Linked DNA regions of Homo sapiens: region 2 is linked to region 1. Evidence: fine-mapped expression QTL. A gene starts in region 1. The other region holds a variant in brackets. All regions are shown on one strand. Distances are between the middles of the regions.

What was found. PIP is the estimated chance that this variant, and not a neighbour inherited with it, causes the effect.
Region 2: its variant is the best candidate, but not a certain one, in a credible set for the expression of NOD1 in tibial artery (GTEx, PIP 0.87).

Annotation. Positions count from the first base shown.
Region 1 is chr7:30,475,995-30,481,365 of GRCh38, reverse strand. NOD1 (nucleotide binding oligomerization domain containing 1) reads left to right here and starts at 2,582. Exons shown (of 14, transcript NM_006092.4): 1 at 2,582-2,760. RefSeq lists a silencer at 2,454-2,693 and an enhancer at 2,342-3,086.
Region 2 is chr7:30,456,057-30,461,427 of GRCh38, reverse strand. It overlaps NOD1 (nucleotide binding oligomerization domain containing 1), which reads left to right. Exons shown (of 14, transcript NM_006092.4): 2 at 1,387-1,527; 3 at 2,188-2,276; 4 at 4,386-4,707. The coding sequence starts at 4,507. Among named protein-coding and RNA genes, the nearest start is that of NOD1, 20 kb to the left of the region's middle. The variant A/T (reference allele first, on the strand shown) is at 3,202.

The DNA of each region.
Region 1 (5,371 bases):
TTGCTGTCTGGCTGCCTCCTTTCTATTATTGTACACCTTGAAGGTGAGGTTGATTAATTCCTTTTGTGGGGTTTGAGGGCCGAATTCTAATTTTTGGAGCTTTATGTAACGTCGGGAGTGGATTGGGTACTAAAATGCATACTAAGACAGCCTTCTGACCTTTCAGAGTCTAGGGCTGTAAAGTGTCTAAGGGTTGTTGCCAAAAGAGCCATGGACTGGGCTATGTTTTCATATTTGATGAAAAAAAGCCTAAATGCTAATTGATTTGGGAGAGGTTGGATAAAGAAAAAGGAGCATTAACCTTGAGGAAATTGTTGGGTAGGTAGGGGAGGGCTAGTTGCGGAACGAAACTGTAAGCTGGACCGGGTGTGAGGAGGTGAGGTGATAGAAGGATTATAGGGTGGGGGAGTGGAGGCAGAGGAAGAATTGGGACCTGGCTCAGCCTGGCGAGGAGCAGCCTGGGGAGGAGGGGAGAGGTTAGATGGGTCCATAGAAAAGGAGGATTCACAGGACTCAGAGCTTGGGGTGGAGACTGAAGGAACAGACAGGAGAGAAAGAAGATTTGGGATGAGTCACATTGGGAGCAGAGATTAGGAAGGGACCAATGTGTAAAAGAATGCCTGGACATCAGGCACCTCAGACTATTTGCCCATTTTACGACAATAATTATCTAGCTCATGTAGGATGGAGAAATTGAAAGTGCCGTTTTCTGGCTATTTGGAACCATTGTTGAGTCTGTATTGGGGTCAAACGGTATTGCAGAAGAAAATAAGGCGTTTAGGTTTTAGGTCAGGTGTGAGTTGAAGAGGTTTTAAGTTCTTGAGAACACAGGCTAAGGGAGAAGAAGGGGGAATGGAGGGTGGAAGGTTGCCCATAGTGAAGGAGGCAAGCCCAGAGAAAAGAAGGTAGAGACCCGGAGAAGGGGGGTGGTGAGCAGCCCTGGGCTGCAATGTGGCTGAGCAGCCAAAGCAGGCGACCCACAATTGACTTGCCACCAAGGGAATGTGGGTGAATGACCAAGGCAGGCATCCCCACGGTGATCAGACACCAATGAAATGTACGTGAATAATCAGGCAGGTGTCCCTGCAGTGATTAAACACCAAGGGACGACTGTTTTCCTGAGTCCGTGACCGGAGCTGGAGTTTTGGGTCCATGGATAAAATATGTCTCCTTTGTCTCTACTAGAGAGGAGAAAGAACTGGAATTGGAAATAGAGGGAGATTTAAGGGTAGTGAGAGAGGCTGGAGAAGACAGTGAAAAGACCGCTTACCCGATTTGAAATTGGTGAGATGTTCCTTGGGCTGTTTGGTCTGAGGACCCGAGGTCATAGGTGGATCTCCTCACAGAGTGAGGGTGAGGACAGGGGACTGGTCTCCTGAAGGAGTCCTCCTGTCCCGGGTCTTCGGCACCAAATGTCACACGTGTCCGTGTGAAGAGACCACCAAAAGGCTTTGCGTGAGCAATAAAGCTGTTTATTTCACCTGGGTGCAGGTGGGCCGAGTACGAAAAAAAGAGTCAGCAAAGGGAGTTAGGGGTGTGGTAGCTTTATAGGATTTGTGTGGGTAGTGGAAAATTACAGTCAAAGGGGGTTGTTCTCTGGTGGGCAAGGCGGGGGCCGGGGGGGTGGAAGGTCTACAAAGTGCTCAGTGGGGGAGCTTCTGAGCCAGGAGAAGGAATTTCACAAGGTAATGTCATCAGTTAAGGCAGGAACCAGCCATTTTCACTACCTTTGTGATTCCTCAGTTGCTTCAGGCCATCTGGATGTATACATGCAGGCTTGGGCTCAGAGGCCTGACACAAGTTGGCACATTTGATCCTATCAACTTTAGTTTGCACTTTCACTTTTGATTTAAGAACATACTTTCTGTTTCTCAGAGGGCAGCCTCTGATGGGAATTTTAATACTCACAAGCATCAGTGGCTATATGATTGAATGTACTTCTTCAGTGTGAGTAAGTGACAACTTTCTGTAGCATGATATCCCTTATGGACACGATCCCCATTCAAAACGTTTTAAAACTATTTTATTGGGGACATTTATTAGCATGTTAAAACTCTTTTACAACCTATTAGAGCATATGCATAGAACATAAAATGTACACTGCCAAGAACAAATTTAAGGATAGGAAGAAAAGCTTACATTTTTTAAAAAGTATAAATTGAAATGTATGCAGTGTAATTTAAATTTGATTACGTTAACCTCCATTTCATCAGGACCACGTGTCGCGTTTTAACAAGAGTTTCCCTATCATGTCCAGGCTTTGGCTCTGGTTGCAGGCGCTGGGTAGGCACTTTTACGAGGAGGGACCTGGCACGATGGCACCACAAATTCCCAAGTGTGTCACCTCTGGGCGAACTTGGGCCTGTCCACTCGGCCCTGCGCGGTGGCCAGGGGCTCACCCTCTCGCACCGGGCGTCCCTCTGCGCGCAGCTTCTCTCGCCCCCCCGCGCCAGACCCGGGCGAATGGCAGCACCGTGGGACCCTGCCTTGACCGCCCCCGCCCTTCGGCGGCCTCTCCCAGCAGCCGGCAGGCTCTTGGGCGCGCCAACAGAGGGGCGCGGCTGCGGCTGTAGTCGCAGCCAGTTCCCGTTCCGGGCCCGCGAGGCAGCCGCCCCGGTCCTGCCCCTCCCTCGCGCTACTGCGGGAGCAGCGTCCTCCCGGGCCACGGCGCTTCCCGGCCCCGGCGTCCCCGGACCATGGCGCTCTCCGGGCTCTTCTCTAGCTCTCAGCGGCTGCGAAGTCTGTAAACCTGGTGGCCAAGTAAGTCCCAGCGACTGGGGATTCGCGCGGGGCAGGCCCTTTCTGAGGTCCTGGGCGCTGCGAGTGAGGAGGCGCAGGGAGGCGGGATTTGCGTGCGGGCGGAACGCAGCGCGGCTCTGGAGGAGCTCTGGGTGGAACCAAGCGGAGAAACCCGCGAGTTTGAAGCATGTAGCGAAAGTTGAGAGGGATGAACTTCACAGTCAGCGGAATCGTTTATCCCACTGTGGTCGAACGCAGGGGTTCTCAATCGTGCCAGCAGCTTAGAACCACCTGGGGAGCTTTTAAAATCCAGATATCCAGGCTGCACCCTAGATCAATTCCATCAGAATCTCACGGAGTCAGACCCAGGCCTCCGTATCTTTTAAAAGCTCCCCAAGTGATTCCAGTGTGCAGCCAGCGTTCGAGGGTTTGTGGCAAAGGCTGGAAGGGCAGACAGGGGCCTTCATGGAGTCCCGCCTGCAGACGGGACAGCAGCTCCCAGTGTCCTGCTTGGTCCTGGAGAGAGGGTGAGAACTTCCCTTGGGTTTCATGCTCCACAAAGTAAGGAAATGAGACAATGCTTGGCAAGGTCGCCTGAATATCACATTCAAAAACGCCTCCAATGTGTGCAGTTGTTTTGGCACATTGTGAAAAACATAGGAAATGACAGAGGTTGATGTCTCATTAGCTCTGCATTCTAGGAAACATTTCGGTTGTTGGTGTTTGAAATTAAGTCTGGGGAAGCTAAGCTAGTAAACCCATGGCCTTGATGACTTCTGGCCTTTCTGCTTTAAGGGTGAAGCCAGGGCCGGGCGCGGTGGCTCACGCCTGTAATCCCAGCACTTTGGGAGGCCAAGGCAGGCGGATCACCTGAGGTCGAGAGTTCGAGACCAGCCTGGCCCAACATGGTGAAACCGTCTCTACTAAAAAAAAAAAAAAAAAAAATTAACCGGGCGTGGTGGCGCATGCCTGTAATCCCAGCTACTCGGGAGGCTGAAGCAGGAGAATTGCTTGAACCCGGGAGGCAGAGGTTGCAGTGAGCCGAGATCGCCCTGTTGCGCTCCAGCCTGGGCAACAAGAGCAAAACTCCGTCAAAAACAAACAAACAAACAAAAAACAAAAAAACGGTGAAGCCAGAAGTCGTGCTTGCCAAAGGGTCGAGTTTGTTCTCCCTCAAAGCCCCTGTTGAAGATTGAACTATCACTTTCAGGGAAGAGTAAAAGAGTAACTCCACGATGCATCTTAGAGAGGAGTGGATTCCCTGTTCTCACCCAGGCTTAGATGCCAGGGGCCAGGTAGCTGAAATCCAGGCAAACCAGGCATTGACAAAGTACAGACTTCTACCGAATATGCCAGACAGATAAGCAAGCTGTGTTTAAAACAAACAGCAGAGTGGTAGAAGAGGGCTCTTTCAAATATTGTAAGAAGAGTAGGTTTTATTTTTGTGGAGTGGAGAAATAAGTTCACGCTTTGGAACCCATCAAATCTGGGTCAAAACTCGGATTCTGTCACTTCTATGCTGTGACTTTGGGCAAGTTCCTTGACCTCTCCAAGCCCCTGTTTTCCCACCTGTAAAATAAAGAGCAACCCTCTCCTGAGGCTAGCATAGTTCAGCGAGATGATGTGCATCACACACCTGGAAGGTGGTGGCGCTGGCAGGTGCTCTGGCAGAGGTAGTTATTAGACACTGGAGTGGCAGTTTGTGCCCGTTAATTGTTTACTTAGTACAGCCACTATGAGGGAGAATGTCTATAAAATGTTCCCTTCAACGCTCCATTCCTTCTCCTGCCCTGCTGCCCCGCTCAGGGCCTTAGCGGGCTTTAAGTCTGAAATCTTAGGCTGCAAATCCCCTCAGTCCCCCAGGGCGTATTAATGGCTCTGGAATACAGTTTTACTGCATGTGATAGGAATGAATATTTTGACACACACACACTCAAAAGCTGTTCTTAATCTTGAGACTTCCTCCTCTCTGTTGCCACATATATATCTTTTAAATGGCTTTCCAAGAAAGCTGGGCTGTGCACAGTGTCTCAGAATTAGTGTATGTGCACACACACGCACGTTGCTCCCTGCTGACAACATCCTCAGACCATACCCTTGGTGTTCCTGTTTTGCTCCTGACTCTTGGCCTAGGGACAGTGAATCTTTCTTGAATGACCAAGGACAGTCAGGGATCTGAGGAAGGGAGAACCCAAATTCTACAATTGCTGATGCCTGCGTCCCAGCTGGAACTTTACCCTGGTACGTGCTCTGTGCATCATGGATGGTCACTTTGATCCTAACAGCAGTGCTGTTTAGATTAGACATCAGAAATAGAAACAGTAAGTAATATAGGCATAAAGATCAAGTGTTTTTCTAGTGTATGTGTGATCACTGATATTTGCTTACACAAGACTATCAAAGTCTTATCTCTTATTCAAAGAAAAGGATTCAATATTTGTTCAAAATCTAAGATATGAACGTAGGATTTAAGGTTTAAGTTACTAGTTTCTTCTATCATTCTTATTATTGGGGGGATTTTTTTTAGGCAAGAAGAAATTAGAAAAGCTAAAATGTGTACTTATGCTGAATTTTTGTCATGCAGAGGCTCTAGGTATTTTGCAAGTTTTCAGAAGTCCCATTTTCTTTTATC
Region 2 (5,371 bases), 20 kb after region 1:
GGTGGGAGGATCACTTGAGGCCAGGAGTTCAAGACCAGCCTGGGCAATATGATGAAACCCTGTCTCTACTAAAAATACAAAAAGTAGCCAGGCATGGGGGTGTGCACCTGTAATCCCAGCTACTTAGGAGGCGGAGGCAGGAGAATTGCTTGAACCTGGGAGGCGGAGGCTGCAGTGAGCCGAGATTGCGCCACCGCACTCCAGCCTGGGCGACAGAGTGAGTGAGACTTCATCTCAAAAAATAATAATAAATAAATTTTGTATGGATGACATACTGAAATATTTTGAGTGTATTAGAATTAAAATATATCATTGAAATTAATTTCACCTGTCCATTTTTACTTTTATTAGTGTGGCTATTAGAAAGTTTTAAATTACTAGGAAAGCTGTGTCATATTTCAATTCAACAGAGCTGCTCTATGGTCTCCTTTTTCCCTTTGAAGATCCGCCATCCTGCAATCCCTGCTTCCTTTTCACCAGAGCAGCTTCCCTGAATCTTCTCCTGGAGGCTCTGCAGACCTTTTCTTTAGTTTGGAAGATCACATTGCAGGAGGGGACTTGGGCACTGGTTTCTGTGAGGAGCCCGGAGTGGTGAATTGCCCCTGGGATTCCCTTACCCTGGAAACTAACCCTCTCTGAGGGCAGAAAGCTAGAAAGAAGAGCGGTTGAGAGGAAATGCCTGTGCAACCCCCAGCTCCCTTCGGGGCTCCCTCACTGCCCACAGGCTCTACCCCCACCTGCCTTTGCCTCAGGAGATGGCTTTTGGTGGTGGACTCACCCTCCTCCGATCTCCTCTGCTTCATTTTTCCACTTGGTGATCCATCTTTTGTTCTGCGGTGTGTCCTGTTTTCTGGCTGCCTCCATTAGCTTGGTTTTTTCCTTTGGGTATCCCTGGAGCTGTCTTACCAGGATCTCCAACTTCAGTCCCCATTGGTCTGCACCACTGGCCTGGGAAAGCTCCACCCAGGAGAGCAGACCCAGCTCCCAGATACCTGGCCCCAGCCCAATCTCCGTCCTCTCTTTGCCTGGAAGAGAGGACCAGACCGTCTTCATCAACTGGACCCACCCTTTACCAAGCAAAGAAAGGAAAGGATTGCCCCCCAGGGCCAGCAGATCTCTGGCTGTCTGGTGTTTCTGGTAATAAGTGCCCATGAACTTCGAATTGATCTCCAGTCTCCCATGGTATGGTTTTGGTCTACCCTTAGATTCTGTTTACCAAGGCAGAGTTCAGTTTCTCTGCTTTCCCTTCCAACATCCATACCTTGTTAAGTTCTTGCTGAATTGAGCTAACTCTGCACACCTGATTAAATCTTCAGCCAGGGCTCTGGACATTATAAAGCAGCCTCCTTGCCAGATGGCTGTCATATAATATATTGCTTTATTTAGGTGATTGTAAGTCAGGAGACTTTCCTTCGGTTTCTGCCTTTGATGGCAAGAGGTGGAGATTGTGGCGGCGATTACAGAAAACATCTGGGAAGACAAGTTGCTGTTTTTATGGGAATCGCAGGCTTGGAAGAGACAGAAGCAGTGAGTAAAACGGGCCCCTCGTGGTAGGCGGGCAAAGGTCGGGAAAGGAGGGATGAAGGAAGCTGTGCAACACCCCTTCCCAGCTTTCTAAAGAATGGAGCATGGCATTGCAAAATGCTGAATCACAAAGTGAGAAGTGACTTCTTTCCAGTTTTCTCTCAGCCTTGTGATGATCTTAAAGAGAAAGTCTCAATTCTGTGCTACTGTGTCTTTAACATCTCTCAAATGCTTCCGAGAGAAAACAGGCCCCAACCCTGGAGCCTTTCCAGGCAGCAGGACTAGCTGGAATACAGTAACATTGTGGTATTTCTGGTGAATTAATTTTTGTGTTACTTTCTATGTATTGCAAAGGATATTTTTTTTCTGTTTCTAATGGTGACATTACATTCCTTTAAAATTATTAGAGTTTTCAAAACTCAATTGAAAGCAAAAGGTTAAGCAAATAAAGGACAGGTGTGACTCAATTATGGCAAGAACAACAAAAAAGTGACTATGGTGGGGACGTTGAACATTTAGAAAACACTGTCCTAAAAGAAGAAGGTACAGAGAGTAGTCTGATACCTGGGAGTACTAGATTTTAAAATTATTCTCTTGCCAATTTTATTCATTCATTCACCATGTGCCACAATAATTTTTTTAAGTCTTTCTTTGATTTTGCAGATTCCAGAAATAAATTGGAAATTGAAGATTTAAACAATGTTGTTTTAAAATATTCTAACTTCAAAGAATGATGCCAGAAACTTAAAAAGGTATTATTAACTGCTAATTTAAATTTAATATTGTCAGCTGGTATGCTTTAAATGAACCGATTTTCTAAAGCTAAGGATCCTAAAGTGGGTCATAGAATTGACTGCCATGGAAAATAGCCGGGTGTGGTGGCTCACACCTGTAATCCAAGCACTTTGGGAGGCCGAGGTGGGCAGATCACTTGAGGTCAGGAGTTCAAGACCAGCTTGGCCAACGTGGTGAAACCCTGTCTCTACTAAAAATACAAAAATTAGCTGGGCATGGTGGCACCCGCCTGTAGTTCTAGCTACTCGGGTGGCTGATGCAGGAGAATTGCTTGAGCTCAGGAGGCAGATGTTGCAGTGAGCCGAGATTGTGCCACTGCACTCCAGCCTGAGCCACACAGTGGGACTCTGTCAAAAAAAAAAAAAAAAGAAAAGGCTGGATTAGTATTTAATAACTTTTATTGGAACAATAACTAATATTTTCATACCTTTAAATTTTTTTGGTGAGGATCTCTTGCCCTTCTGTTGCTGATAATTTTAAATTTTACTCTTTCCTGCTCTATCATTTGGATTCTAAAAAGAAAGCTATTGTGTGGGGTCTGGCATTTGATAGGTTAAAAAAAGAAAACATAGAAGCATGTCAAAGAGCAGGAGACTCATGTGCCACTTGGTGGAAAAAAAATTGAGAACCACTGGACCTGAATGTTAACAGATGTGGCTTGTGAAACATATTAATGATGTGGATAGTGTTAAAAGATCTATGAGCTTTTTTTTGAACTACAAAAAAACCTTTTTTTTACTCTCTCTCTGAAATGCATGAGTTTTCCTGCCTAGACAAACGACAAAGTGGCCAATTCCAGGCCTTTCCACTTCCAAGATCATTTTACACACGCAAGTATTCCTGGACAAGAAGAGGCTGAAGGATCTTCTGTGGGATTTTTTT[A/T]AAAAATTATTATTTTTTGCTGTTATTGTTACAAGGAAGGTAGTGAGTGCAATTTTGGGATAACTCAGATGAACCCAAATGTTTTTTAATGCCCAAATAAAATAGCCTGGGTCCCTGTTCCTACCCAGACAAGAAACTCAGCACTTGTACCAGGTTTTCAAGGGTTTCCAGAGAGATACCTCTCTTGGGAATCTAATCCCAGGAACTCTGTGCCGGCTCTCCCTCTTCCTCCTGCCCCTCTGCCCTCCCTCTGTCCCACTTCATGCCACATGGGCTATTGCTTTTCCCTCCTTTCCCAGGGTGCTTGTGTATAACAGACTTTGCTGAAGGTCAAGGACACGGGGGAAGAGGTTATAGCACAACCCAAAATGGGCAACAGTGACTGAGACATCACCGTCCGCAGGTTCCTTGCCTCTGGCTACCACAGGAGACTTCATGCTGCTGTCTCTCTTCTCAGGCTATTTTGTGCTGAGACCGTCTCCCACCAAACCCCACAGGTCTTTCTTTCTCAGTTCTGGGCCTGTTCCCTGCTTGGGGAATGCAGAAACCTCCAAGCCCTGTTAACCTTATTATGTAAAATAAACACCTTTCCATCTCTATCCCAGTATAGGATCAAAGCACACTTTTGCTTTATAGTAATAATAAAGATGTTTTGATTTAAAAATAAAAAAGAGTTGGCTATCTCTGGTCACCTACCCTAGAGATGTAACCCTCAAGTGCAAACAATTAAATTATGATTTTTTTTCTTTAATGCATCTAAGATAAAAGTTTTTTTAGAGACAGGGCCTTGCTCTGTCACCCAGGCTGGAGTGCAGTGGTGTGATCATCGTTCACTGCAGCCTTGAACTCTTGTGCTCATGTGATCCTCCTGCCTTAGCCTCCCCAATAGCTGGGACTACAGGTGCGCCACCATGCCTGGCTAATTTTTTTTATTTTTGTAGAGATGGGTGTCTCACTATGTTGCACAGGTTGGTCTCAAACTACTGGCCTTACTTCAAGCTATCTACCCATCTCAGCCTCCCAAAGCGCTGGGATTACAGTCATGAGCCAACTTGCCTGGCCAGATAAAGGTCTTAAGCATGGTTCCTTCCTGCTCTAGGTAGAGAAACCCCACAACCAGTGGGAGGTGGGGTGAGCTCTTTCTGTAGCTTTTGCTTTGCTGATGATGTCATTGATCTCTTCAGGGGCTGCGCAGAGTAGCAGGGGCCCTGGAGGGCGCGGCCTGAATCCTGATTGCCCTTCTGCTGAGAGGACACACGCAGCTGAAGATGAATTTGGGAAAAGTAGCCGCTTGCTACTTTAACTATGGAAGAGCAGGGCCACAGTGAGATGGAAATAATCCCATCAGAGTCTCACCCCCACATTCAATTACTGAAAAGCAATCGGGAACTTCTGGTCACTCACATCCGCAATACTCAGTGTCTGGTGGACAACTTGCTGAAGAATGACTACTTCTCGGCCGAAGATGCGGAGATTGTGTGTGCCTGCCCCACCCAGCCTGACAAGGTGCCCCGGGGACAGGGACGGGCATGGCATTGTGTGGACCCCGGGAGCTAGAAGAGGCCTCTCCCTGCTGATCTGAGTGAAGAGCGTGGGAGTTTAGTCCAGCGGGCAGGGCTGCATTTTGGGGTACTAATAGCACACAAATGCCTGGGTTAGCAGGTTGCACAGTCAGGTATTTTACTTCTGTGTTTGTGTCTGGAGCAAACCCTGACATCTCAGTTCTCATTGCTGTGTGTATTGGTTCCCAGACACTTCATTTTTAGATCCCCTTTAAATTAGGAGGGAAAAAGAACATAAGCATAAGAGCATCCCCAGCAGCGATGTTCATTCAGTGCCTCTGAAGGCTGGAGGGCTGCTTGTTGCTGGGTGAGACTCGGAGGGGAACCGACTCAGGGTCAGGAATGATGACATCCCACGGTGGGTCCACAGTGAAGAATCTTCCCCGCTCCACTGTGGGACGCCTTAACAGCCCTTACTTCCACTTACGCTTTGCGTTATCTCCTGAAAAATAAAATGGAGACCACAAATTCCTTCTTGGTTAGAGGAATGACACAACTCATTTATGACATGACCCCGCTGGGACTCAGAAGAGACCAGGACGGTTTCTGGGGGAAGCAGTAGCACACTCGTGTGCTTTGTTCTCTTCTCTTGATTTGTTTTCCCACAT